Linked DNA regions of Homo sapiens. The protein of the gene in region 1 purifies or fractionates together with the protein of each later gene. This does not show direct contact. Each region holds a gene or a part of one and is shown in the gene's direction. Other genes may lie near its edges.

Region 1 (3,878 bases):
CTTCCCGGGTTCACGCCATTCTCCTGCCTCAGCCTCCCGAGTAGCTGGGACTACAGGCGCCCGCCACCGCGCCCGGCTAATTTTTTGTATTTTTAGTAGAGACGGGGTTTCACCTTGTTAGCCAGGATGGTCTCGATCTCCTGACCTCATGATCCACCCGCCTCGGCCTCCCAAAGTGCTGGGATTACAGGCGTGAGCCACCGCGCCCGGCCGGGAAAATATTTTAATTAGTAGTAATTTCAGATTGTCGTCTCTGTGGAAAAACCAATTTTGGGCCGGGCATGTTTGCTTACACTTGTAATCCCAGCGTTTTGGGAGGCTGAAGCAGGTGGATTGCTTGAGTCCAGAATTTCAAGACCAGCCTAGGCAACATGGTAAAACCCAGTCTCTACACAAAATAAAAAAAGTAAGCTGGGCGTGCTGGTGTGCACCTGTATTCCCAGCTACTCCAGAGGCCAAGGTGGGAGGATCACTTGAGCCCAGGAGGTCGAGGCTGCAGTGAGGCGAGATTGTGCCACTGCACTACAGCCTGAGCGACAGAGTGAGACCCTGTCTCAAAAAAAAAATCGGTTTTCATAAAAAAATAAAGATCAGTTGAACACTTTGTCTTTGCAGGTCCTGCAGGTTAAGTTCAAAAACTTTTTTTTAGTGGTTTTATTATTGAGAAAATTTCATTTCACCTCTCCCAATAGATAGATGTTTATTTCAAGATACACTGCAGCCTACTGTCAGCACTTCAAACTTGCCAGCCTACTCTTATTCAGGCAGTTTAATTTTTCTGGCTGCTGAATGTTCCTCCAGTCACCAGCCCTTATGGTGCATGGTGCTGATGCAAAGACAGTCATTCCAATGGAAAGGTTGTTCACCACTATTGCCAGTCATGGCAATTCTTCAAAAGGAGTCATTTTTCACAAAATTCAACCTTTCCCTGACAATATGGCCTTATCTTCTATTCTTATGGTCTACAGAAGTCACAGAGAAAGTGCCTATTGCTGTTACTGGAATTTTGGCCGATACTGTGGACGATGTCTGTAGTATCTGTCTTGAAGTCCACAGGCATTCATTTGAGTTGCATTCAGTACAGCTTGGTGGTCCAAATCATTACTTGCAAATCGGTGTTTTAGCCACAAGATCAAATATAGAAACAAATGTAAAGCAAAGTGCAAGACCATGAGAGGAATTCATCACAGTATGTTGGACTTTTCATTTGGAAAAACTTATTTGGCACAATCGATTTGGAAATCATGCTGTCAATTCTCTTTTACTACATGTATCCGAACAATTTCCTGTTAACTAATGTTTTGACTTTTGGTTTTAGTATATTTTAGTACAAAAGTCCAGGAACAAGTTCTTCAGTTGGATCTATCTGAGATGCTGATTGTTCAACTGATGAACAAAACCACCATGTGCTCTACTAAAATATGAGTGTCTGTTTCTTGTAGTCCTTGTAATTTAGTTTTATCCTATCTGTGCATATATAAAATTAGTTTCATTTATCACTATGAGACAAATGATAAAAATATTTTAAAGTAAGCATGTAGCCTGGGCACGGTGGCTCATGCCTGTAATCCCAGCACTTTGGGAGGCCGAGGCTGGTGGATCACAAGGTCAGGAGTTCGAGACCAGCCTGGCCAACATGGTGAAACCCCGTCTCTACTGAAAATAAAAAAATTAGCTGGGCATGGTGGCAGGCACCTGTAATCCCACTATTCAGGAGGCTGAGGCAGGCAAGTTGCTTGAACCTGGGAGGCAGAAGTTGCAGTGAGCTGAGATCGCGCAGCCTGGGTGACAGAGCGAGACTCTGTCTCAGGAAGAAAAAAAAAAGAAAGTAAGCATGTGTAATTCTTATTTAACCTTTTATATTGATCAACAGCCAGAATAAAAGCTACTTGGCCGTAAGGCTAAAAGACCAAGATCTGAGAGATTCAAGGCAACAAGCAGCACAAGCCTTCATACATAATTCATTATATGGGCCAGGAACCAACAGGACTACTGGTAATTTTTTTATGGACTATTTTTCTCACTTTTTACTGCAAATAAAACTGTGAAATGATAAATACCTTTCTTTTCTAGTAAATAAGTTCCTGTCTCTTGCCAACAAGAGGTTACCAGTGAAAAGAGCTGCTGTCCAGTTTTTGAATAATGCTTGGGGTAAGATCCAGCTTTATTCTCCTGTCTCTAATAGCTTTATATGTTGAATAATGTTCTTTTGAAGGAGATAGTTCATAATTATACTTTTCCCCCTTATAATGGCTTATATATTAAGTTACTTGTGAAAAACAGGTCAATGTAGTATGTATATACATCTAAAGTATAATAAGCCCACCCAGTTTTAGTAATTACATTCATATAGAGTAATTAAAAAAATTTTGAATTATGTTTTTCTAATATACTTACTGCAGAAAACTTTATATTCTAGGAATCCAAAAAAAACAAAATGCCAAGAGGTTTAAAAGACGGTGGATGGTCAGAAAGATGAAAACTAAGAAGTAAATCAATGCTAAATGAAGAATCTGTACTTTGTATGTATAGAATTTATCTAATAAATCATTCATAGATCATTTTAAAGGATCATTATAAAAATCATAAACCTATTTGAGGAAGTGCTCAACCACATTTCATTCTTCTGGAGTAGAACTGTGCCTTGCAATCCTAGAGGAAAAAGTGGTTTAAGAAGGAATTGTTTTCTTTTTAATATATTTAACTGAATTCAAGCCATACCCACATCAGCAACAGCACCTCTTCTACTCTCCCCGGGTTAGAGGGGTGGCAAAAATGGCACGGACTAAAAGGAGAAATGGATATTCCAGCAAAGTCTCTAACTGCAGCCTGTAGACAATTTGCTATTAAAGATTCAGTGCACAAAATATAGCTAACAGCTTTTAAATTTTTACTTTTAACCAGTCTGGGGATTTGCTTGCCTGGTGAGTCTCATATGCCATATTATGAATATGAAAATAATGAAGTTAATTTCCTGTTGCCTTTCTGTGTCAGCCACAATATCAGGTCTAACCCTAATCCAGGGATGCCAGTAAACTGAAGGCAATTTTAGGTTGTAGAACTCAGATTAATTGTAGAAACCATTAATTTTAATTGCTCTAATTTTCATAGTAATCATAAAAAGTATGCAAGTACCTAATATATAAACTCAATTGACACTGTATCTGTAGAAGTAAATTTTTAATGGCTGGTTAATTATATCACTACATTTTATTGCAATATAGTACTCATTTAAGCACTTAAAAATGGAAGGTGTACAAAGATTAAATTAAGACACGGTAAATTGACTAAATATTTGGTTTTTATATAAATAAAGGTCATAACCACACCGTTGACATGTAATACTGTTATAATACAACAGTTAAACTTGTGAGTCTACAACAGAAGTCATCTGTAGTTAAACAGGAAACAAAGTTGAAAAAGACCATGTTAAAACAAAACTACTGGGACTAACAGGTCGGGATTGTAAGTAGCAACAAACATATTCACTCAGCTCCTGAGTATTTCAAGTTTTACAGTACACATTAAAAATGATTTCTTCCATCAACACTATAAATTCAAACTGTCGGATGTTTATGCATTTTGCAAGTTACACTGATTGAATGCTTATATGGGAGTGGGGGTCGGAACATCTCCCAATTTGAAGTTTACATCACCCACATGCTAACACAAACACAACTTGTTCCATTTCCTTCCCCTCTCTCCCCCCTCCCCCACAAAGAAGGCAGGATTTTTGGTTTCTTTTAGGTAATTGTTTTAAAGGATTTGTGATGATCAATTTGAACGTCTGAAATTCAGTAATATTTAACTCTTAGACAACTAAGAGGTTAAAGATGGAAAATAATTTCTCCTAACACTAAGTTAGAAAATCATTTGCA
Region 2 (3,500 bases), on another chromosome or scaffold:
AAGCTTTTACCATGAACAAAATTTGGGCTATGTACTAGATTCCAAGGATGAAAAAGACCATTTCTGTTATCTCTGTATCATTGTCTGCAGCAAGGCAGGCATCTGTTTGTTCCCTTCACATCCTCTGTTCTCAAGCTTGTTGGAAGCTGCTAGTTATAATAATATGGAAAATATAGGTTCTTTGACATATATGACATTCATTTGGGGAAGCTAGGTATCTTTTGGAGCAGCAGAAAATGAGGTCCTGAGATGGGCCTCTGTTAATGCTAATTGGGAGAGCTGTGCGATGTGTGTTAATACTCCTAATACAGAGTTTCAATGAGAGCCTCAGGCTTTAACTCACAAGGTTAGCAGTCAAGGTCTTTTTAACAGCTTAATTCCTACACTTCCCCCACAAGTAGCTTGTACCAGGGTGAGTAGCAGCAGGGATTTCTTCATTAATCAATGGATAAAATTCCCCTCAATAAGATCCACCTTAACAGATTTATAAACAAGAGAACTAGTTGACTCAGTGCAAGATTCTTAGTGCTTCTTCGTTGATGTTCTTTAGCTTCCTATTTTCAGTTTTTTTTGGTTTGTTTCTCTTAACTAGATCCTCAGTTTTTTTAGAGCAAGTACTCTGTTTTACTCATTTTGTACCCCACCATCTGATAAAATACCTGACTCTGAATATGTCTTCAGTAAACATTGATGAAATGGGGTTTGGCAGTACAAATGAAAAGTGATGTGTAGATAGAATATTTGAATATTTCCTGATAGTGTACAGTGTTGTCCTTGAGAATAGAATGAAGGAATCCATGTGGCTATTTTTCTTTAGCTAATTTGGAAAGTATTCTGTTTTTTTTTTTTTGTTTTTGTTTTTGTTTTTTTTTGAGATGGAGTCTTGCTCTGTTGCCCAGGCTGGAGTGCAGTGCTCACTGCCACCTCTGCCTCCCGGGTTCAAGCTGTTCTGCCTCAGCCTCCCGAGTAGCTGGGACTACAGGCGCATGCCACCACACCCGGCTAATTTTTTGCATTTTTAGTAGAGACGGGGTTTCACCAGGAAAGTATTCTTAACTGAGTTAACAGAAAAATTAAGCTGCAGGCAAATTTGTTTTTACTAATTTATTTCCCAGCTCTTCAGATGACTGTTCTCTATTAAGTAGTGCAATAGTAGTACCTAAAATTCGTGTAATCACATTAAGTGTTTAATTCCAGATGTTGTTGAGATCATTCCTACTCAAAGTGTGGACCAAGGACAGCAGCATTCACATCACCTTGGATCTTGTTAGAAATGCGGAATCTTAGGCCCACCCTAAATCTACTGAGTCAAAATCTACATTTTAACAGGGTCCCTAGGTGATTCATGTGCACACTAATGTTTGAGAAGCACACATTTATAAATTATAGCTTTCCATTTGATTCATGTTTCTTATGAATTATGGAAGTGAGTGTATATGTGAGCCTGCATTAGTGAGGTAGCTTATGGAATGCATGTCAACCACACTTAACAGATCATTAGTTTTAAAAAAACACATGCTAGGCTGGGCATGGTGGCTCATGCCTGTAATCCCAGCACTTTGGGAGGCCGAGGCAGGTAGATCACCTGAAGTCAGGAGTTCCAACATGGCAAAACCCTGTCTCTACTAAAAATACAAAAATTAGCTGGGTTTGGTGGTGTGCACCTGTAATCCCAGCTACTTGGGAGGCTCAGGTAGGAGAATCGCGTGAACCTGGGAGGCGGAGGTTGCAGTGAGCTGAGATTGCGCTACTGAACTCCAGCCTAAGCAACAGAGTAAGACTCCATCTCAAAAAAAAAAAAAAACCAGCCAAACAAAAAAACACATGGTAAATGATCCTGTTTGATTTTTGTACACTTTTGATTAATCTATATATTCTGTTTCTCCAGGTCGGCATTTCCCCAAACGTCCAAAGCATATGCTTGTAGTGGAAGCAAAGTTTGATGGAGAACAGTTGGCTACTGATCCTGTGGACCACACTGACCAGCCAGAATTTGCTACTGAGTTAGCTTGGGAAATTGACAGGAAAGCGCTTCATCAGCACAGGTGATTATCATTTTCATTTTAGCTTCTTTATTGGTTTCTTATTTTTCAGGCTGTTATAAATAAATACAGTTTGAGTATTTAATACTTGGGACCAGAAGTATTTTCGGATTTTTGGAATATCTGCATAATCAAAGATACCTTGGGGATGGGACCCAAGTCTAAACATGAAATTTATTTGTTTTACATTATACGCATAGTCAAAGGTAGTTTTATATAATATTTTAAATAAATTTTCATAAAATGAAGTATGTTAAATGCTTGTGTGTGGAATTTTCCGTTTGTGGCATTATGTCAGCACTCAAAGTTTTAGAATTTGGAGCATTTCAAATTAGGAATGTTCAACCTATAAATTTTGTATCTGTCATTACGTTTAATAATTATAGTTATTGAGTGTTTTTTTAAATGTGACAGGAAATTTTTAAAGTACTTTGCAACAATAACAGTTAAACATCAGAACAACACTATGAAGTTGTTATTTTTATTTCGCCCATATTATAGATGAGGAAACCGAGGCCTGAGATGTTAAGTATTAGTAACTTGTTTTAAGTCTGTTAGCTTAGTAGTGGTAGAGCCCAGGCAATCCAGCTTCAGAGCCTAAGCTTTTACACTACACTTACACTGAGCTGTTTGGGTTTTTTTTTTTTCCTAATGTGTGAGACAGTAGATATTCTAGAAATACCTTGATGATACCTACTCATTATTAAATATGGTTGGAATTCCTTGTAATTTCTGTTAATTTATTTATTGTATATTTACCTGGCTTGCCAAGGATATATAGAGGGGTATCCAGTGAAAAGTTATGAAAGTAATTCTATCAAGGTTTCTTTCTAATTAATTTATATTTAATTTTAAACAAAACCACTTTATTAGTATATAAAATAGACTTAAAGTTATAGTATATATTTTTTGTGAACTCTGACTAGAAGCAGGCAACAACAATAAAAGCAATACTCTTATTTATTTAAGGATTAAAAATATATTTTCTTCTGGAAAACATGTTATCACTTTAATACTTGCTTGTTCTCAGTACTAAATTAAATCAAAATGGAAAGTTAAAAAAAAGGAAAGCAAGGAAAACTCTATTTACCTCTGTTGCTAGAGTAGTCCATGGATTTATTTGAAGAAGTATTGCATTCTTAGAGAATATCAATGTTGGATTTCCTTTCAGTGGTGTCTATAATGGAGTCCTGCTATGAGCTGTTAGGGCTTCCATTTTGTTAGTGCCAGGTTAGTACCACTCTGATTGTTGTAGGCTGAGAAAATACAGATAAATTGAATTTATAAGTGATGATTTTGTGCTAAGTGCAGTTCTATAATAACTCCACTAGATAAAAGCAGTGGCAAAATCCATTCAGCTTAATGCATGAGCCAGTTGAGGGGTTCCGAACTAAAACAGCCCATGCTAAACAAGCCAATATCATTCTTTCAGAACACTGTTATGTGTTATATTATTAA
Region 3 (3,500 bases), on another chromosome or scaffold:
CCCCCATGGCTCCCGTACAGCGTTGTGGAGTGGATGTCGGGGAGGGAGGCAGGGGCCTGCCACCACACCCCTGTGGCATCTGGGGCCCAGGAGGGTCTCGTTTATGTGGGTGGTGCTGGTTTCTTCCAGGCTCTGGGGCAGCAGGGCTCCAGGGCCCTGCCCTGACTCCTGGGTTTGCAACCAGGTGGAGCATGTTCTGGAAGAACGCCGCGTCTGCTCGCTCTCATCCACTGCCTCCCTGGGGCTGCACACGGCCTGTGAGGTCGGTCAGCCTGGCGAGGACATTCCGTGCCCCGTTTTCGGGGTGGGGGGGACCTTACGGAGCCCTAGAGCTGGACGGGGCTCCGGCTGCCGTGCCGCCTCTCCCGCGGCGGCTAAAATGTGCTGTTCACGCCTCAGATGGGCCTCTCCGTTACGTACAACAGGTCTCCCCGGGGCCCTGTGCACATTGGTCCGGGTTGGTCTCTGGGGTGGGGCTGCCCTGGGCACTGCAGGGTGCTGAGCAGTGTCCGAGGCCTCCACCCACTCCATGCCAGGAGCTCCCCCAAGTCGTGATAACCACAGATGTCTCTAGACAGTGCCCATTGTCCCTTGGGGGGCACGTTGCCCCCATTTGAGACCCTTTACTGTGTGGTAGCGTACAACGTAAAATGCTCGTGGCAAAGCTGAGGGATAATGAGTGCAAATTATTTTGTCAGAAGTTTCCATGAGTGCTTATAGAGTATTTTTCTAAGCACCGTCAAAGCCGTGTGTGTGTGAATTCACTACTCAGTGTATGCATGAATGTGAATGCATGTATTGTTTTATACCCGTGGTATTCCAGGTTTGTCCCTATGCACACTTCTGTCGATGCTGGTGACAGCTGTGGATGGGTACAGGAGTGGCAAGCACGTACTGCGCACTTAGTGCACACGCTGCTCCCGCCTCCGTCCGCGCCGCCGCCATCCTGGGGTCCGCCCTGTGGCCTGGAGAGCTCTTGCAGGCCCTGCCAGCAGCTCTTGGATCTGGGTTCCCATTCCCCAGGCCCGCTGGGCTTCTGCCTATCACGGGCAGCCCTCGGCTGTTAGGTTTCCGTCTCACTGGTAAACTGTGGAGGGGACCCCCGTATAGTTCTTTGTGGCAGGTTTGTGGTTGGAAACGTGGGGACTTCCATGGGAATGCCTGTTCCCAGGGCCTGAGGCTGCTAGCGAGGCTGAGCCGGAGTGGCTCCAGGCTTTCTAAATAAAGCAGGATGGTTAGTTCCGGAGGCTTCCTGTCCGGCCTGCGCCAGCCCCCACGGGGCAGTGACAAGGCCCGGGATCCAGCATGGGGTGCGGTGGCCCCACGGGAAGGGCCGGGCCTCTGTTGGCCCAGTGTTGGGAGGCGTGGAGCGTGGCCTCTGGCGCCTGGCAGGGTGGCTGTGCCGTGTCCCAGAAGACTCTGGGAGCAGGAAGCGCCCTTGGATGGCCTCGTCCAACCTTGACTTCCCAAGCCCGAGCCCAGGCCAGGGAGACGTGGGGACTTGGTCCGGGCCTGCTCTCACGTCCTTTGTGTTTACATGTAATCAGTTATGATGATTGTGGCTGAAAGGGTCTGCTTTTCCCGGGCATGGTCCGGGAAGCTCCGTTCCACAGCTGTGAGCTCCGTGGAGCTTCCTCCCGAGCCTCCTGCCCGGCTCTGCCGGTGCTGTAGTGAGAGTGGAGGAAGTGCTTTCCTCCGAGATTTAACCACGAGAGGTTTCACTTTCTGAGTCTTGTGGTGGAGCCTGTCTCTGTCTGGGACCTGGACCCTGGGCAGCACGGGGAGGACGCCGTGGCATCAGGAGGTTGGAGAGGTGTGTGGTGGAGTCGGACGGATCTTAGAGGGGCGCTCGCGGGGCCTGCTCGGCCCTACCCTGTAGACAGCTGGGACCCAGCGCCCCTTCTGGGTCCCCAGCAGGGCTGTGTTCTCCCCACTGGGCACCCCAGCTTGTGCGTGGAGGATGGGAAGCCTTGTATGGCTTGCCCACCTGGGTGACTGAGAGCGGTGGATGCGATTAGGGGCGGCCAGGGGCTCTGGGAAGGCCCACGTGCAGGGTCATTATCTGGCAGAAATTAAGTCCTTTCGCAGAACCGGGATCCTAAGTGCCGGTTTGCTGGCGTGCAGGTGGTTGCAGGTGCATGTAGCTCCTGCCGCCAGGCCCTGTGTGGAGCATCCCGCCCGGGGGGCCTCCCACCATGTCTGTCATCTGTAGGGCACCTGGCAGGTCTTAGAATTGGCTGCCCTGGATCCAGACTCTCGCTGTCATCTGGGCCTGGCCACATCCCTCCCCTGCCATCAAGATGTCTGTGGTCCAGTCTCCCACCCTCCATCCCCACTCCCTGCCTCTGGGTCAGAAGCCTCCGATGGTCTCTGCTGTGGGGGTTCCTGGTCCAGCCTGGCCTCCCGCAGTCTGCCGACAGGCGCTTTCAGGACAGCACTGGTGGGTGGGTCTTCGGGCCACCTGCAGGGCCTGGGAGCAGTGTGGTGTCCGGATCAGGTACGTGGCCTGGGGAGACTCAGGTTCAGAGCCTACCTCTGCCTCTTGTAACTGTGGGACTTCAGGTCTGTGCCTCAGTTTCCTCAGGGGGCGGTGGGGTGAGGACTCGGTGGTGATCCCCATCCTGCCGCACGTGGGGACCCACGGAATGCTGGCTGCTGCTTCCGCTGCCGGTGTGGTGATATCTTGTCGCGTCCACAGCACCTGGCGTGTGTGGCACACATTGGGTGCTCTGAGAAACTGCTCCATGGGGGATCCTGCCCTGGGATCTGGGATCTGGGATCTGCCCACAGACACCTTGATCAGGATTCCCCAGCCTCGGCTCCGTGGGTGTTTTACACTGGATCGTTCTCTGGGGTGGAGCTGTCTTGGGCACTGCAGGGTACTGAGCAGCGTCCCTGGCCTCCACCCACACCAGACCAGGAGCACCCCCAAGTTGTGACAACCACAGAAGTCCCCAGACATCGCCTAGTGTCCCTGGGAGCAGGACCCCTGACCCGTGTGTCTTAGCAGCCCCCTTCCCTTCTCGTCGCCATCGTCAGCTGCGTGTCCTTGGTCCCCTGCTTCCCTGCCCATGTCATTGAGCTGTGCAGGTCTCAGAGATGCTTGGCGAGTGACCGTCATTGGCTGACTGAAGGCAGATCACGCAGGGAAGTGGAGAGGAGTGGCCCGACACCTCCCCAATGCCCTGCAGGCTGGTCTGGTGCACGCCAGGGGTCTCTGCTGGGGCAGGCTCGGTTGCCACCTGCCTGTGGGCCTGTGCACTGGGCAGAAGGGGTCTCCGGGGACAGTGCGCAGCTGGCTCTCAGAAGCTTCTTTCTGAGTCCTGCCTGTGGCCTGGGCTGCCCTGGGCTGGCCAGCACGGGGCAGTGGGGGCACACTCTGGAGGGAGCCAGGGGCGAGTCACTTCCCTCTCCCGGCCTCAGTTTCCCCATCGGTCACGTGGGAAGGCTGTCCCTCCCCCTGTAGGATTGTGGAAGGATTAAATGAGCTGAGGCCAGTG
Region 4 (3,500 bases), on another chromosome or scaffold:
CCTGAGTAGCTGGGACTACAGGTTTGTGCTGCTCTGCCCACCTTGTTTATTTAAGAAACTTTTTTATTGGTGTTTCTTGCATTTTTTTTTCTTTTTTTAAGCCAGAGTCTCGCCCTGTTGCCCAGGCTGGAGTGCAGTGGTGCGATCTTGGCGTACTGCAACCTCTGCCTCCCAGGTTCAAGTGATTCTCGTGCCTCAGCCGTCCAAATAGTTGGGATTACAGGCATGCGCCACCACGCCCAGCTAATTTTTGTATTTTTAGTAGCGACGGGGTTCACCATGTTGGCCAGGCTGGTCTCAAACTCCTGGCCTCAAGTGATCCACCCAGCTCAGCTTCTCAAAGTGCTGGGATTATAGGAGTGAGCCACCATGCCTGGCTGATGTTTCTTGGATATTTTTAATGAAATAAACGTTATTAAGAAACACCTGTTCTAGTTCCAAATAAAGGATTTTCAGTATTTTTATTGGTTTAATACATTTCTTTAGTGATAATAACTTGATCATGTTAAATATTCGTATTAAATAACATGATATGAATTTCTTTGTTAGGTTTTCTCTTATGTTCTTTCGAAGGATTTAAATTTCTCAAGTAGGTCCTAGGTATTTTCTCTCTCTCAATGCTATTCTAAGGAGATCTATGTTGGGTATATGAAGCGTTGCTGTACTGTAGACGTTAATTTTGTCAGTAGGGGGCGCATTGTTACCAGTGTCTGAGCTTGCTCCTTTGATGGAATCCTTAGCTTCTGGAAGGAAAAGACCCTTGTAACTTTCCTACTGATTCTGGGCATAGGTTTACCCCTAAGCTGCTGAGACAGAAAGCCTCGGAATATTTTTCCAACCAGACCTTGTTTTGCTTACGTGTACCTCCCTCATGATTTAATTCCTCAGCAAGAAGACAGTTTCGTGGTGGGCACAGCCGAGGGAACAGTCTTCCATTTTCAGCTGGTCCCTGTGACATCTAACAGCAGTGAGAAGCAGTGGGTGCGGACAAAACCGTTCCAGCATCACACTCATGACGTGCGCACTGTGGCCCACAGCCCAACAGCGCTGATATCTGGAGGTGGGTTCCCCCTCTGGTGAGGCTGCTGCTTTACCCTGCCCAGTTCTGGCTGTTCTCGTGAGGATGACTTCTAATTCTGTACACCTTCTCCCCTGCTTTCCCAGGCACTGACACCCACTTAGTCTTTCGTCCTCTCATGGAGAAGGTGGAAGTAAAGAATTACGATGCCGCTCTCCGAAAAATCACCTTTCCCCACGTAAGTGTCCATTCCAAGCCCCTGCTAACCCCTCATCTCCCCATCCCTGTGTCCCCCTGTCCCACAAGCTCTGAACACAGCTCACGCTCGGCAAATTTGTAGGACTTTTTTTTTTTTTTTGAGACAGAGTTTGCTCTTGTTGCCCAGGCTGGAGTGCAATGGCGCGATCTCGGCTCACCACAACCTCCACCTCCCGGGTTCAAGCGATTCTCCTGCCTCAGCCTCCCGAGTAGCTGGGATTACAGGCATGCGCCACCGCGCTCAGCTAATTTTATATCTTTAGTAGAGACTGGGTTTTTCCATGTTGGTCAGGCTGATCTCGGAACTCCCAACCTCAGGTGATCTGCCCGCCTCAGCCTCCCAAAGTGCTGGTATTACAAGTGTGAGCCACCACGCTCAGCTTTGTGGTCCTTTTTTTTTCTTTTTTTTTTTTTTTGAGACTGAGTCTCTCTCTGTCGCCCAGGCTGGAGTGCAGTGGTGCGACTCCACTCACTGCAAGCTCCGCCTCCCAGGTTCATGCCATTCTCCTGCCTCAGCCTTCCGAGTGGCTGGGACTACAGGTGCCCACCACCACGCCCGGCTAATTTTTTTATTTTTAGTAGAGGTGGGGTTTCACTGTGTTAACCAGGATGGTCTTGATCTCCTGACTTCGTGATACGCCCGCCTCGGCCTCCCAAAGTGCTGGGCTTACAGGCGTGAGCCACTGTGCCCAGCCCCTGCCTTTTTTTTTTTTTTAACCATCTGGGACATGGAGATATTGTAGGACTTTCTGTAGCTACCTTCTTCATTCCTTCTGTTTTTGAGGCAAGCCACTGCAAAGACATTTATGGGGGCAGGAGATATGCAGCAGCACACCTAGTTCAGTTTCTGGGGAAATTTTTCCCTTTTCCAAATAGTTGTGGGTTATGGGAATTTTGTTAGTTTGTCTTTCAGGGTAGGCTCTATTCTGGGTGGGAGCGGGAAAACCCAGGCTTCCAGTGTTCTAGGTAAATGGTACCATCTTCCCAAGCTAGAAAACTTGCTCCCCACACCTGCTGCCCCATTCATTCAAGCAGTAAACCTCATTGAGTCTACTCATCAGTATCTTTATACATATGTTATAGATATAGATAGATAGATAGATAGATCAACAGCTCTATTGAGGCATACTTGATATATTAAAAATCATACATATTTAATGCATATGGTTTGATGAGGTTGAACATAGTCCTCATAATCTCTTGAATCGAGTCATTCATTTCTCTTTGTCTACGCTGGCATCATCCTAGTTTGGATCAGTGTCTTTTCTCATCTGGGTTCCTTTACAGTAGCTTCTTAATCATGTCCTTTTATTTGCATTTGTGTCATTCTAGCCTATTCTTCATTGATCTTATTTTATTTTATTTGTTTTTGTTTTTTTGAGACAAGGTCTTGCTCCGTCACCCAGGCTGCACTGCAGTGGTGTAATCTTGGCTCACTGTAACCTCTGCTTCTTGAGCTCAAGCAGTCCTCCCACATCAGCCTCCCGAGTTGCTGGAGCTGCAGGCATGCGCCACCAGGCTCAGCTAATTTCTGTTTTTCTTTTTTTTTTTTTTTTTTTTTTGAGACAGAGCTTTGCTCTTGTTGCCCAGGCTGGAGTGTAGTAGTGAAATCTCGGCTCACTGCAACCTCAGTCTCCTGGGTTCAAGCGATTCTCCTGCCTCAGCCTCCCTAGTAGCTGGGATTACAGGCACCCGCCACCACGCCTAGGTAATTTTTTTTGTATTTTTAGTAGAGACAGGGTTTCACCATGTTGGCCAGGCTGGTCTTGAACTCCTGACCTCAGGTGATCCACCTGCCTTGGCCTCCCAAAGTGCTGGGATTACAGGCATGAGCCACTGTGCCCGGCCTCGGCTAATTTTTTTATTTTTTATTTTTTTTAATAGAGGCAAGATCTCACTATCTTGCCCAGGCCAGTCTCAAACTCCTGGTCTCAAGCAATCCTCGCACCTCAGCCTCTCGATTGCTGGCATTACAGGCATGAGCCACTGCTCCAGGCCCATTGATCTGTTTTAAAGCACCTTTGTTCATCACTCCATGCTTCAAAGCCTCTGGTTATCCCTGTTGGCTTCAGCATAAAGACAGTTTCCTTAGTGTGTCTTATAGAACCTGTCTCCATCCAGGCCTGGCCCTTCAGCTTCTTTTTGCACCTCTCGTGCTTGTAGCACCCCCACCCAGGCTAGCCATTCTCAAGGTCTTTTTGTTCCCTCAAATACTCTTACCTTT
Region 5 (3,500 bases), on another chromosome or scaffold:
GGTGCACACCACCACACCTGGCTAATTTTTAAAAAAATTTTTTAAAGATGGGCTTTCGCTGTATTGCCCAGGCTGGTCTTGAACTCCTGGGCTCGAGCGATCCTCCTACCTCAGCTTCCCAAGTAGCTGGGATTACAGGTGTGAGCTATCACACCAGTTTCTTTGTACTATTTTTTGCAACTTTCTGAATGCCGAAAATTATTCCTAAATAGTTATTTTAAATGTTATGTCTTTAATTAATTTCTTTCTTGTTATTAGAGGAGTTTGCTTTGCATTCAGGATAAAAGAGAGGTGGACCAGTTTGTTAATATTAAAATTTGTGAGACAGTCGCTAGCTGCATTCAGCTAATAGAATAGGAGTCTAATTTGAGGAAGAGAAACTTTGGTTTCCTCATGTTACCTTTTTTTAAAAACTTTGACAACGTATGAAAGTTGGAGAGCCTTCTAAGGAAGGGCATGTGCTGCTTATTCTAAACACTTTGAAGTTGACTTAATTTCCACTAAAGGACAAATGGTGGCTACTAGAAATATACAAGATAAGGGGGACAGATCGTCCCAAGCCTCCAAAATCGTGGAAATAGTAGATCCTGTATCCTAAATCCAGGCACAGTTTCATTTGGATTTACACATTCGGGCCACAGCTGTCTCCACAAAGATGATAAAATCCTGGGAGTGGGAGGGGCGGTCTTCGGGTGTTCTTTAGGTGGGAAATTCTCGTCTACATGTTCATGCTGCCTTCCTGAGAGCACTCTCTGAGTGGCTCTCAATCTCTCTAGCTCACAGGTGCAGTGCGGTCTTCAGCGCGCTTGAAAGCACGAAGTTGTTCGGCAGCCAGGTTGGCCTCTGCCCAGGAAGTTGCTGGTTCCACGTCTGCCAAGACAGCATGTCTGGTGAGCCCTGTTACCGTGGAGAACGCCAAGATCCTGACTCGAGGGTCCATTTTTATACAAAATTGCCACTCCAAGATGTGTTGCTTTAGAAAAATATCGACTGTTACTTATCTGCCAGAGGGGGACTATTGCAGATGAAAAGGTGACAGCACTGTAATTGCCTTCAGAGAAAGACACACTCTGCAGGCCAGGGCTGGCTCTCCTAGCACCCGCCCACCCGTGTGTGTGTCTAGACCCGGGCTCTGATCCTAGCACCCGCCCACCCGTGTGTGTGTCTAGACCCGGGCCCTGATCCTAGCACCCGCCCACCCGTGTGTGTGTCTAGACCCGGGCCCTGATCCTAGCACCCTCCCACCCGTGTGTGTGTCTAGACCCGGGCCCTGATCCTAGCACCCTCCCACCCGTGTGTGTGTCTAGACCCGGGCCCTGATCCTAGCACCCGCCCACCCGTGTGTGTGTCTAGACCCGGGCCCTGATCCTAGCACCCGCCCACCCGTGTGTGTGTCTAGACCCGGGCCCTGATCCTAGCACCCGCCCACCCGTGTGTGTGTCTAGACCCGGGCCCTGATCCTAGCACCCGCCCACCCGTGTGTGTGTCTAGACCCGGGCCCTGATCCTAGCACCCGCCCACCCGTGTGTGTGTCTAGACCCGGGCCCTGATCCTAGCACCCGCCCACCCGTGTGTGTGTCTAGACCCGGGCCCTGATCCTAGCACCCGCCCACCCGTGTGTGTGTCTAGACCCGGGCCCTGATCCTAGCACCCGCCCACCCGTGTGTGTGTCTAGACCCGGGCCCTGATCCTAGCACCCGCCCACCCGTGTGTGTGTCTAGACCCGGGCCCTGATCCTAGCACCCGCCCACCCGTGTGTGTGTCTAGACCCGGGCCCTGATCCTAGCACCCGCCCACCCGTGTGTGTGTCTAGACCCGGGCTCTGATCCTAGCACCCGCCCACCCGTGTGTGTGTCTAGACCCGGGCCCTGATCCTAGCACCCTCCCACCCGTGTGTGTGTCTAGACCCGGGCTCTGATCCTAGCACCTGCCCACCCGTGTGTGTGTCTAAACCAGGCTCTGAGGCCACTTGTGCTCATCGCTCTGCTCTTAGCGTGCTATGGAGTCATGCTGGCCCATTGCCGTGCAGCCTCACCGCCAGAGGCTTGAAGAGAAAGGCAGAGTGGGTGGGGAAAGGAATCTCATGCCGTCTGCCGTTCACCCTAGCCCAGCCATCGATTCCGAGGAGCGAGTTCCTGAACTTACCGGTGAAGTAGAGCCGCTTCACGGAGCCTACAGTTGAGGGGTTAGGACTTGGCCATATGCCAGCGTGTAGCACAGAGCTTTGCTCATGATGAGGTGCTTGGTAAAATTTTGTCGAAGTCAATTTCACAAATATTTCTTGAGCACCTACTGTGTGCCAGGCACTAATTGGTGAATAAAGCAAAGACCCCTGCCTTCACAGAGCTTATGCCCTAGCAGAAATGAATGAAAGCTGGATTCTTTTACTGTAATTGTATAATATATAAATATATGCTTCAGAATTCACCTGAGGAGCTGTAACGCCACTAGGGGAAACTGAAAGTGTAGGAGTGGTGTGGAGCTGTAACGCCACTAGGGAAAACTGAAAGTGTAGGAGTGGTGTGGGGTGTGTCTAGATTCAGTCTCGCTTGTATTTTGTCCCTTGGTGGCAAAACAGTGAAATGACGATCTGTGAAAGTTGTGGTCACAGCATCTTTATCATTTCCGATGTGAGAAGAAATACTAGCCTCTGGATTGAGGCCTGTTTTATTTGCTAGATATGTCTGGTTCCCCTTACATTTTTTTTCTTGACAGACTTCCTCATCCCACAAAGCCACAGACACGCGAACGTCCAAGAAGTTCAAATGTGACAAAGGACATCTTGTGAAGTCAGAATTACAGAAGCTTGTCCCTAAGAATGACAGCGCTTCTTTGCCAAAAGTGACACCTGAGACCCCTTGTGAAAATGAGTTTGCTGAAGGCAGTGCCTTGCTTCCAGGCAGCGAGGCTGGCGTTTCTGTGCAGCAGGGGGCTGCAAGTCTTCCTCTCGGTGGCTGCAGAGTTGTGAGTGACTCTCGCTTAGCAAAGACTAGAGATGGCCTGTCCGTGCCAAAACACAGTGCCGGGTCCGGAGCAGAAGAATCCAACAGCAGCTCCACTGTGCAGAAGCAGAATGAGCCAGGGCTACAGACAGAGGATGTGCAGAAGCCACCACTTCAGATGGACAACAGCGTCTTTCTAGATGACGACAGCAATCAGCCAATGCCCGTGAGCCGGTTCTTTGGAAACGTTGAGCTCATGCAGGTAAGAGCGGCGCCTTCCTCCTCCCGTGGGTACTCAGGCAGCAGCTGCACATTCAGGTCACACACTCCCCACTCAGTGCAGGTAAATAATGCCTCGACACAACATTAAACATAAACTAATCATTTTAACCCACGAGGAGAAAATGAAACCGTTGGCTAATTGGGGGCTCTCCCTGCATCTCCCGAGCTGAGAATCACTGCTCTCGGGAAAGGTGTGTTTCCATGAAATCAGGTTTGTGGTTTTTTTGAACATCCACCCCGCGCTTGCTGTTAATTTCTTTTGTTTTGAACCCAGCA
Region 6 (3,500 bases), on another chromosome or scaffold:
ACGTGGTGGGCGGGGAGGGCGTTGATGAGGAGCCGATTTCATAAGTGGCCACTTTGTTCATGAATTTTGTGTTGTGATGACATTTGCTTCCTCACGCTGAGGCCGGGCCACCACTGCCACCCTACCCTGTAGCTGATAAAGCTGCAGGTACAGTAGTAATTTATTTGTGTTTCTTTTATAACAATAAGGAAATGTTTGCTTCAATTTTTTAAAAAGACGTGCAAACGAAAGAGAATTAAAATGTATGTGATACTTCACCACTTTCTAAACTTGAAGAAAAGAGATGCATAGACTCTAAGATGTTTGTATTGTTTTGCCTTCCAGGAGGTTTCAGTCAGGAAGAACTTCTGAAAATCTGGAAGGGGCTCTTCTACTGCATGTGGGTGCAGGATGAACCCCTTCTACAGGTAACATGCGTTCCCTTTGTCATGCTCCCGGGTTCTTGCTGTGGATGGATAAGAGACTTGATCACTCATGCTGTGCCAGTCCCCCGATACACTGACGCACACTGACAGTCATGCTTCAAGGAGTCATTTTCGTACCTCTTGTCCATACAGAAAGGGATGCAGGGTCAACACAGTTAGGTGAATTGTCTTTTCAAATAAAAGGAAAGATGTGCATTCGTTGTCAATTTACTATTTCTCTGTAAAATTTCATAGGTTCCATGCTAGGTTTTACATTACTTAAAGTTTCTCTCTTCTGGTAAGTTTATTTTTTGTGGTCAAGGATGGCATGACAGGAGCACTAACTAGTCAAGACCCTGTGAAACCCAGGAGAGGGCAGCCGCGTCACTGGGCTTCGGGTTCCATGGAGAGCAGCAGTAGCGCTCAGCGAAAGCCTCCCTGTTAAAGCCGAGTGCGCCTGCGCAGTCACCCAAACGCGCAGCAGGCTCGGTCTCTCTGTGCGGGGCCTGCTGAGCCCGCTAAGCCCACCACCAAAGCCAACACTAAAGATGTGACTTTCACTTTTTAAAAGCTTTGTTCTGACCCATGAAAGTAGATCCGATCTGCCTCTGTAGAGGGAGAGCAGGCTTGTCCAACCCACAGCCACATGTGGCCCAGGATGGCTTTGAATGCAGCCCAACACAAATTCGGAAACTTTCTTAGGACCTTATGAGATTTTTTTTTTTAAGCTCTTCACTATTACTAGTGTTAGTGTATACTGTGTGTGGCCCAAGACAGTTCTTCCAGTGTGACCCAGGGAAGGCAAAAGACTGGACACCCCTGAGGTAGAGGAACCAGCCTTGAGAAGTGCTTGCAAGTCTCTGATGCAGATGACAGGTCCTCAGGGCAAGATTTTACTTTTCTGGGTTTTAATGTGCAGCCTTGCCACTTCTCCCGTGCTGCGTAATAACTTGTTTTAATTTATTTTTATTTTACTGAACATATTTTGAGTAGGAGCAGGGCAAAATATTTTTATATTACATTCAAAAGTAACAACCAACAGCTTTAGTGGAGGAAGAAAACCAATGGACAGAAATCTCATTTTCCCACGAAGGAAAACAGACCGGGTGTGGTGTGAGTCAGACTGATGAGGAGTGTGCTTTTCTCACGGAACCTCAGAAGAGAGGGCGTCTCCCCAGAGTGAGCCTGCTGCACCTCAGCAGGGCATGCTCTCTCAGGGACCCCTTCACCCAGGACAGAGCCCAGAAGGCTGAGTTTACCTTCACATTCCACCTTGTCTCTGAGCAAGCTGTAGGGAGGACTTTCCCATGGCGTGCAGTGAGCATCCCCAGCATCTCACCTCTGTGAGGTCTGCCCTGCTGTCTTTGTGTTTCACATCATTTCTGGGATTATGATGAAGTTTTCTTTTTTTTTTTTTTTTTTTACAGAGTTTCACTCTGTTGCCCAGGCTGAAGTGCAGGGGTGCCATCATGGCTCACTACAGCCCCAACCTCCCTATTGCTCAGCTGATCCTCCTGCCTCAGCCACCCGAGTAGCTGGGACTACAGGTGCACGCCTCCATGCCTGGCTAATTTTTGTATTTTTTGTAGGGACTGGGTCTCATTGTGTTGCCTAGGCTGGCGTTGAACTCCTGGACTCGAGCGATCCACCCGCCTCGGCCTCCCAAAGTGCTCGGGCTCCCATTACAGGCATGAGCTGCCCAGCCCAGCTTAGATGGGGGTTTTTTGGTTGTTGTTGTTGTTTTGAGATGGAGTCTAGCTCTGTCACCCAGGCTGGAGTGCAATGGCATGATCTTGGCTCACTGCACCCTCTACCTCCGAGTTCAAGCAATTCTGTCTCAGCCTCTCGAGTAGCTGGAACTACAGGCACACGCCACCACGCCTGACTAATTTTTGAATTTTTAGTAGAGATGTGGGGAGTGCCATCTTGGTCAGGCTGGTCTTGAACTCCTGACCTCAGGTGATCCACCTGCCTCGGCCTCCCAAAGTGCTAGGATTACAGGCATGAGCCACTGCACGTGGCCAGATATAGTTATAAAGCCAGGAACTGATAACTAATTTATTTCATCTCTAGTTCATCTGAACTGATAATTAGAGATGCTTTTTTAAACATGTAGCTTAACACAGTTCTTGCAGACATACCAAGTTAGCATAATAGTCCGTCAATATTGGAACTTACACATTTGATAAAATTCAGATATTCGGATACATACTTCTTAGTGGAAGTGACAAGAGGGGCAGACCTTCCCACGAGCGGAAGTGGGAGAAGGAAGCAGGCCGCGGCACAGGCATCTCATGTTGCCCCACGATAACCCCCATGTTTCTCCCCAACCCCGCCTCTGCAGGAAGAGCTCGCCAACACCATTGCACAGCTAGTCCATGCTGTTAACAACTCAGCGGCTCGTAAGTCCTGTTGTTTCTTCTCCTTCCTTCCAAGTTTTCCGACTTGCTAGTTTAATGGGAACCTTGTGCCGGTATTGTGTAGATGTCAGGGGACAAGCCATTCCTGTTTTTAAAAGCTGTGATAAACTTAGTCATTGACTTGGTGAGAGGGCACAGTGTCTTGGGGAGAATCAATTTGACATCTCAAAGATTTCAGAAAATGCTTTTAGAAATAACAATCCTCCAGAATCTTCAAATTCTGAGTTACTTTAACACTTGGAGCCTGGAGAGCCAGATGCAGGGTCCACGGTGACCTCTGGATGCCAGGTTCGTCTTCCCCAAGAGCAGAGCCGTCACTGGTAATAAATACATAGAAGACACCACCGGTCACAGACTATGAAGTAACTCCTCTCAACCATAGAGAAAAAAAATTAGTTAGGGTGCTTCTGTGTCAGGCGTTGATTGCTTATAAAGGAAGAAAAAGGTAGCCGACTTCGTTTGTTCTGCTTAATGCTCTTCAGAAAAGCATCCTAATGATTTCAACCACCCCCAGTGGTGCTCTGAATATTAGCTGACTCATATTGAACAAAATTCTACATATGATGTATAATAGATTTACAAAGATGAAAAAAGAATTGTGCAAAAAGAAATAAAGCCAAAAAATCAACAAAAATTGTTTTTGAATAAAAAAGTGCTAGTTCTGTGGGTCAGAAGA
Region 7 (3,500 bases), on another chromosome or scaffold:
ATGGAGTTTCACTCTTGTTGCCCAGGCTGGAGTGCAATGGCGCGGTCTCGGCTCACCGCACCTTCTGCCTCCTGGGTTCATGTGATTCTCCTGCTTCAGCTCCCAAGTAGCCGAGATTACAGGCATGTGCCACCATGCCCGGCTGATTTTGTATTTTTAGTAGAGACAGGGTTTCTCCATGTTGGTCAGGCTGCTCTTTAACTCCCGACCTCAGGTGATCTGCCCACCTCGGCCTCCAAAAGTGCTGGGATTACTACAGGTGTGAGCCACCGCACCCGGCTAATACCTTTTCTTTACTCCCAAGTTTGATCTTCAGATGACAGTGGCTCATGGTCTGTCCTTCTGTTTTTTTTTTTTCCTTTTTTTCTTTTTAAATTTTTGAAACAGAGTCTTACTCTGTGGCCCAGGCTGGAGGGCAGTGGCACGATTTCGGCTCACTGCAACCTCTGCCTCCCAGGTTGAAGCAATTCTCATGCCTCAGCCTCCTGAGTAGCTGGGATTACAGGTGTGTGTCACCACACCTGGCTAGTTTTTATTATTTTTGGTAGACATCGGGTTATGCCGTGTTGGCCAGGCTGGTCTTGAACTCCTGGCCTCAAGTGATCTGCCCACCTTGGCCTCCCGAAGTGCTGGGATTACAGACCTGAGCCACCACACCCGGCCCTTCTATTTTTTTTATAAGTGGCTAGTCAAAGTTTTTATACGGATGTTATAGTTAGGGCTGGTATACAGCTCTTTTTTTTTTTTTTTAGACAGAGCTTTGCTCTTGTCGCCCAGGCTGGAGTGCAGTGGCACAATCTTGGCTCACTGCAGCCTCCACCTCCCAGGTTCAAGCAATTCTCCTGCCTCAGCTTCCCAAGTAGCTGGGATTACAGGCATGTGCCACCACGCCCAGCTATTTTGTATTTTTAGTAGAGATGGAGTTTCACCATGTTGGTCAGGCTGGTCTCGAACTCCTGACCTCAGGTGATTCACCCACCTTGGCCTCCCAAAGTGCTTGAATTACAGGTGTGAGCCACCGTGTCCGGCCTACAGCTCATTTTTTAAGGGATTCAGTGATGAATTAGTTTGTAATTAACATTACTAATCTTTGTTTTTCTTCACTGTTGTACAGATTTTAATGTTTGTATTTTGTTTTCAGAAAATAGAAATTTGCATTTTATACTCGTTTTCAAGGTGATTTTTGACAAAGCTTTTCCTTTTTATTAGGAAGGTGAAAGTATACAGCACAACTTCCTACAAAGTAGTCCACAGTTTTGATTATGCAGCTTCAATTTTGAGTCTTGCCCTTGCAGTAAGTACCTTTACCTATTTTTAAGTCTGTCACTAACCCTGCCTGTTAAATGAAACTAAAATGGAACTTTGGGCTTTATTTTTAGATTTGAGTAACTTTTCTTGCCACATCAGATATTTGAGTTAAGACAATTGCTGGAATATGTAACTCGTCCTATTGACTCAGCATGAATTCAGATTTAGGTCCCACTCACTGTAGAACTTCAAACTAAATACAGTGCTCTAGGCATTGTTAACATTAAACGCAGGACCTGGGAAGCTGGTAAATCTCTCTTCAACTCATTTAACTCAAGAGTATTATAGTACACTAGAAAGGCAGATTAGCTCTCTGAGCAGAAAAAAAGATGTGGGGAGAAGGGGACAACAAAATGAAATATCTCCTTTTCTTTGTTACTGCTCTTTCTGAAATGTATACTGTCAAGTTTTATGAGAAGCCACATTTGGGCAGGAAGGCATTTGACTATATTATATAGAAATCTGATTTGGGAGAGGAAAAGCTTATTAAAAATATTTTTGGGGGGCAAGATCATAAAAGTCTTGCTACTGTGTAATCTTTGATGCCGTTAACTATGTATTATACAAACTTTGCCAGTGATATTTTACAAGTATAAGTTCTGTCAATGTAGTTGTATCCTAAGGAAAAAATGATTTCGCTTTAACGTCTTGCACCAATCATCGTTAGGCAGACTATGTGTATTTGAATGGAACTGTTGGTGAATGTATGGACAAGCAGCAAACACATGGTAAATGTGTTTTGAAGTAAAAGTACTATAAATTACGAGTTAAGAATAGACTAACTTATTTTTCTAATTGTTATTAGCATGAAGATGAGACAATAGTTGTAGGAATGACCAATGGAATACTGAGTGTTAAACATCGGAAATCTGAAGCAAAGAAGGAATCACTTCCCAGAAGAAGAAGGCCTGCATATCGAACCTTTATTAAAGGAAAAAATTACATGAAGCAACGGGTATTTGTGCATTTCTCATATTTGTTTAAAGGGTGAAATTTGTTAGAGTAGCCAGCTTCATCCCTGCACATTACTGGAAAGCGTAGTTCACATGGCACTTTATTTTGCTTTTCTCTACATCAGAATTATTTCTAGATTGCTAGATTGGGGACATTATTGATGAGTAATGGGGAACAAGGACTACTTTATGTAATACTCTGCATCATAACATAATGTTATAATGCTTTACTGCATTCAAAATAATGTCTTTCACATACTACCTGATTTGATCTAAATCCCAAGAAGTAGTAGAACCAATCATGTCCCTGTTTGGCACCTGAGAAGACTGAGCGACAAATAATTTGTGATTGATTCAGGATTTCATTACTGGTATCCAGAGTTGTTGAGACTAGATCTCATTATCTCTGATTGTTGTTTGATTTCTCTTTCTACTGTACCACACTGCCTGCCACATAAAGAGAATTGAAATGAGTAATTTTTACCTAGAATTAAGGCAATGGTGCATGTTGTAAGTTAAAATTATAAGAGAGTAAGAACATGTTGATGTAGCAAGTTACTCCTTTTTTTTTTTCTTTTTTTGACTCTGATTAGCAGGATGCATTTTTATTTAATCTACATTATGGGCATATGAACATTATTTGTGACATAGTTCAGAGATACCACTTCATTATGAAAAAGTTTATATTAAATGTATATTTACACAGATGCTGATTTTCCTTCTCTATAAATGTACTTTTCATTGCAGGATGACATTTTGATTAACAGGCCAGCAAAGAAGCACCTAGAATTGTATGACAGGGATCTGAAACATTTTCGGATCTCTAAGGCACTCGATAGAGTTCTTGATGTGAGTGAGCATTTTTTAAAAAATCATGTTATTACTTACCCTGCATATTACCATGACTTGGAACTGTGAAGATAAATATTATTCAAACTTGATAATTTAGTGCAAGACAGTGATTTTTTTTGTGCTGTTTTGTCTACTCATGTTGACTTTGAAAATTTTTCTAGCCCACTTGTACAATAAAGACACCCGAGATTACGGTGTCCATCATAAAGGAGTTAAATCGAAGAGGAGTCCTTGCAAATGCGCTTGCAGGTCGGGATGAGAAGGAAATCAGTCATGTTCTTAATTTTTTGATAAGGTATGTTTTTTGTCTGTGAAACACTTACATTTTGCATCTGAAATCCTTTATCACCAAATAAAAGACATTTAGTTTGATCTTTGTAGAGAACT

What was found.
Region 2: the proteins of NOL7 (region 1) and CEP120 purify together in Homo sapiens (affinity purification with mass spectrometry; 2 studies listed by BioGRID and IntAct, with this or other methods). This does not show direct contact.
Region 3: the proteins of NOL7 (region 1) and GNA11 purify together in Homo sapiens (affinity purification with mass spectrometry; one large-scale study listed by BioGRID and IntAct). This does not show direct contact.
Region 4: the proteins of NOL7 (region 1) and UTP4 purify together in Homo sapiens (co-immunoprecipitation; 3 studies listed by BioGRID and IntAct, with this or other methods). This does not show direct contact.
Region 5: the proteins of NOL7 (region 1) and C1orf174 purify together in Homo sapiens (co-immunoprecipitation; one large-scale study listed by IntAct). This does not show direct contact.
Region 6: the proteins of NOL7 (region 1) and RRP1B purify together in Homo sapiens (co-immunoprecipitation; one large-scale study listed by IntAct). This does not show direct contact.
Region 7: the proteins of NOL7 (region 1) and UTP15 purify together in Homo sapiens (co-immunoprecipitation; 3 studies listed by BioGRID and IntAct, with this or other methods). This does not show direct contact.

What each region holds. Positions count from the first base shown.
Region 1 is NC_000006.12:13,618,335-13,622,212, forward strand, and holds the end of NOL7 (U3 small nucleolar RNA-associated protein NOL7), read left to right. Parts: intron 1-1,873; coding exon 1,874-1,995; intron 1,996-2,073; coding exon 2,074-2,151; intron 2,152-2,419; coding exon 2,420-2,493; 3' UTR 2,494-3,378; downstream 3,379-3,878.
Region 2 is NC_000005.10:123,416,904-123,420,403, reverse strand, and holds part of CEP120 (centrosomal protein of 120 kDa), read left to right. Parts: intron 1-1,888; coding exon 1,889-2,045; intron 2,046-3,500. UniProt on the Homo sapiens protein: Plays a role in the microtubule-dependent coupling of the nucleus and the centrosome.
Region 3 is NC_000019.10:3,097,362-3,100,861, forward strand, and holds part of GNA11 (guanine nucleotide-binding protein subunit alpha-11), read left to right. Parts: intron 1-3,500. UniProt on the Homo sapiens protein: Guanine nucleotide-binding proteins (G proteins) function as transducers downstream of G protein-coupled receptors (GPCRs) in numerous signaling cascades.
Region 4 is NC_000016.10:69,149,649-69,153,148, forward strand, and holds part of UTP4 (U3 small nucleolar RNA-associated protein 4 homolog), read left to right. Parts: intron 1-888; coding exon 889-1,060; intron 1,061-1,164; coding exon 1,165-1,256; intron 1,257-3,500. UniProt on the Homo sapiens protein: Ribosome biogenesis factor. Involved in nucleolar processing of pre-18S ribosomal RNA. Part of the small subunit (SSU) processome, first precursor of the small eukaryotic ribosomal subunit.
Region 5 is NC_000001.11:3,890,273-3,893,772, reverse strand, and holds part of C1orf174 (UPF0688 protein C1orf174), read left to right. Parts: intron 1-776; coding exon 777-890; exon of another isoform or gene 891-1,024; coding exon of another isoform or gene 1,025-1,032; intron 1,033-1,993; coding exon of another isoform or gene 1,994-2,147; intron 2,148-2,715; coding exon 2,716-3,204; intron 3,205-3,500.
Region 6 is NC_000021.9:43,669,560-43,673,059, forward strand, and holds part of RRP1B (ribosomal RNA processing protein 1 homolog B), read left to right. Parts: intron 1-324; coding exon 325-407; intron 408-2,748; coding exon 2,749-2,806; intron 2,807-3,500. UniProt on the Homo sapiens protein: Positively regulates DNA damage-induced apoptosis by acting as a transcriptional coactivator of proapoptotic target genes of the transcriptional activator E2F1.
Region 7 is NC_000005.10:73,575,743-73,579,242, forward strand, and holds part of UTP15 (U3 small nucleolar RNA-associated protein 15 homolog), read left to right. Parts: intron 1-1,209; coding exon 1,210-1,294; intron 1,295-2,113; coding exon 2,114-2,263; intron 2,264-3,008; coding exon 3,009-3,110; intron 3,111-3,274; coding exon 3,275-3,408; intron 3,409-3,500. UniProt on the Homo sapiens protein: Ribosome biogenesis factor. Involved in nucleolar processing of pre-18S ribosomal RNA. Required for optimal pre-ribosomal RNA transcription by RNA polymerase I.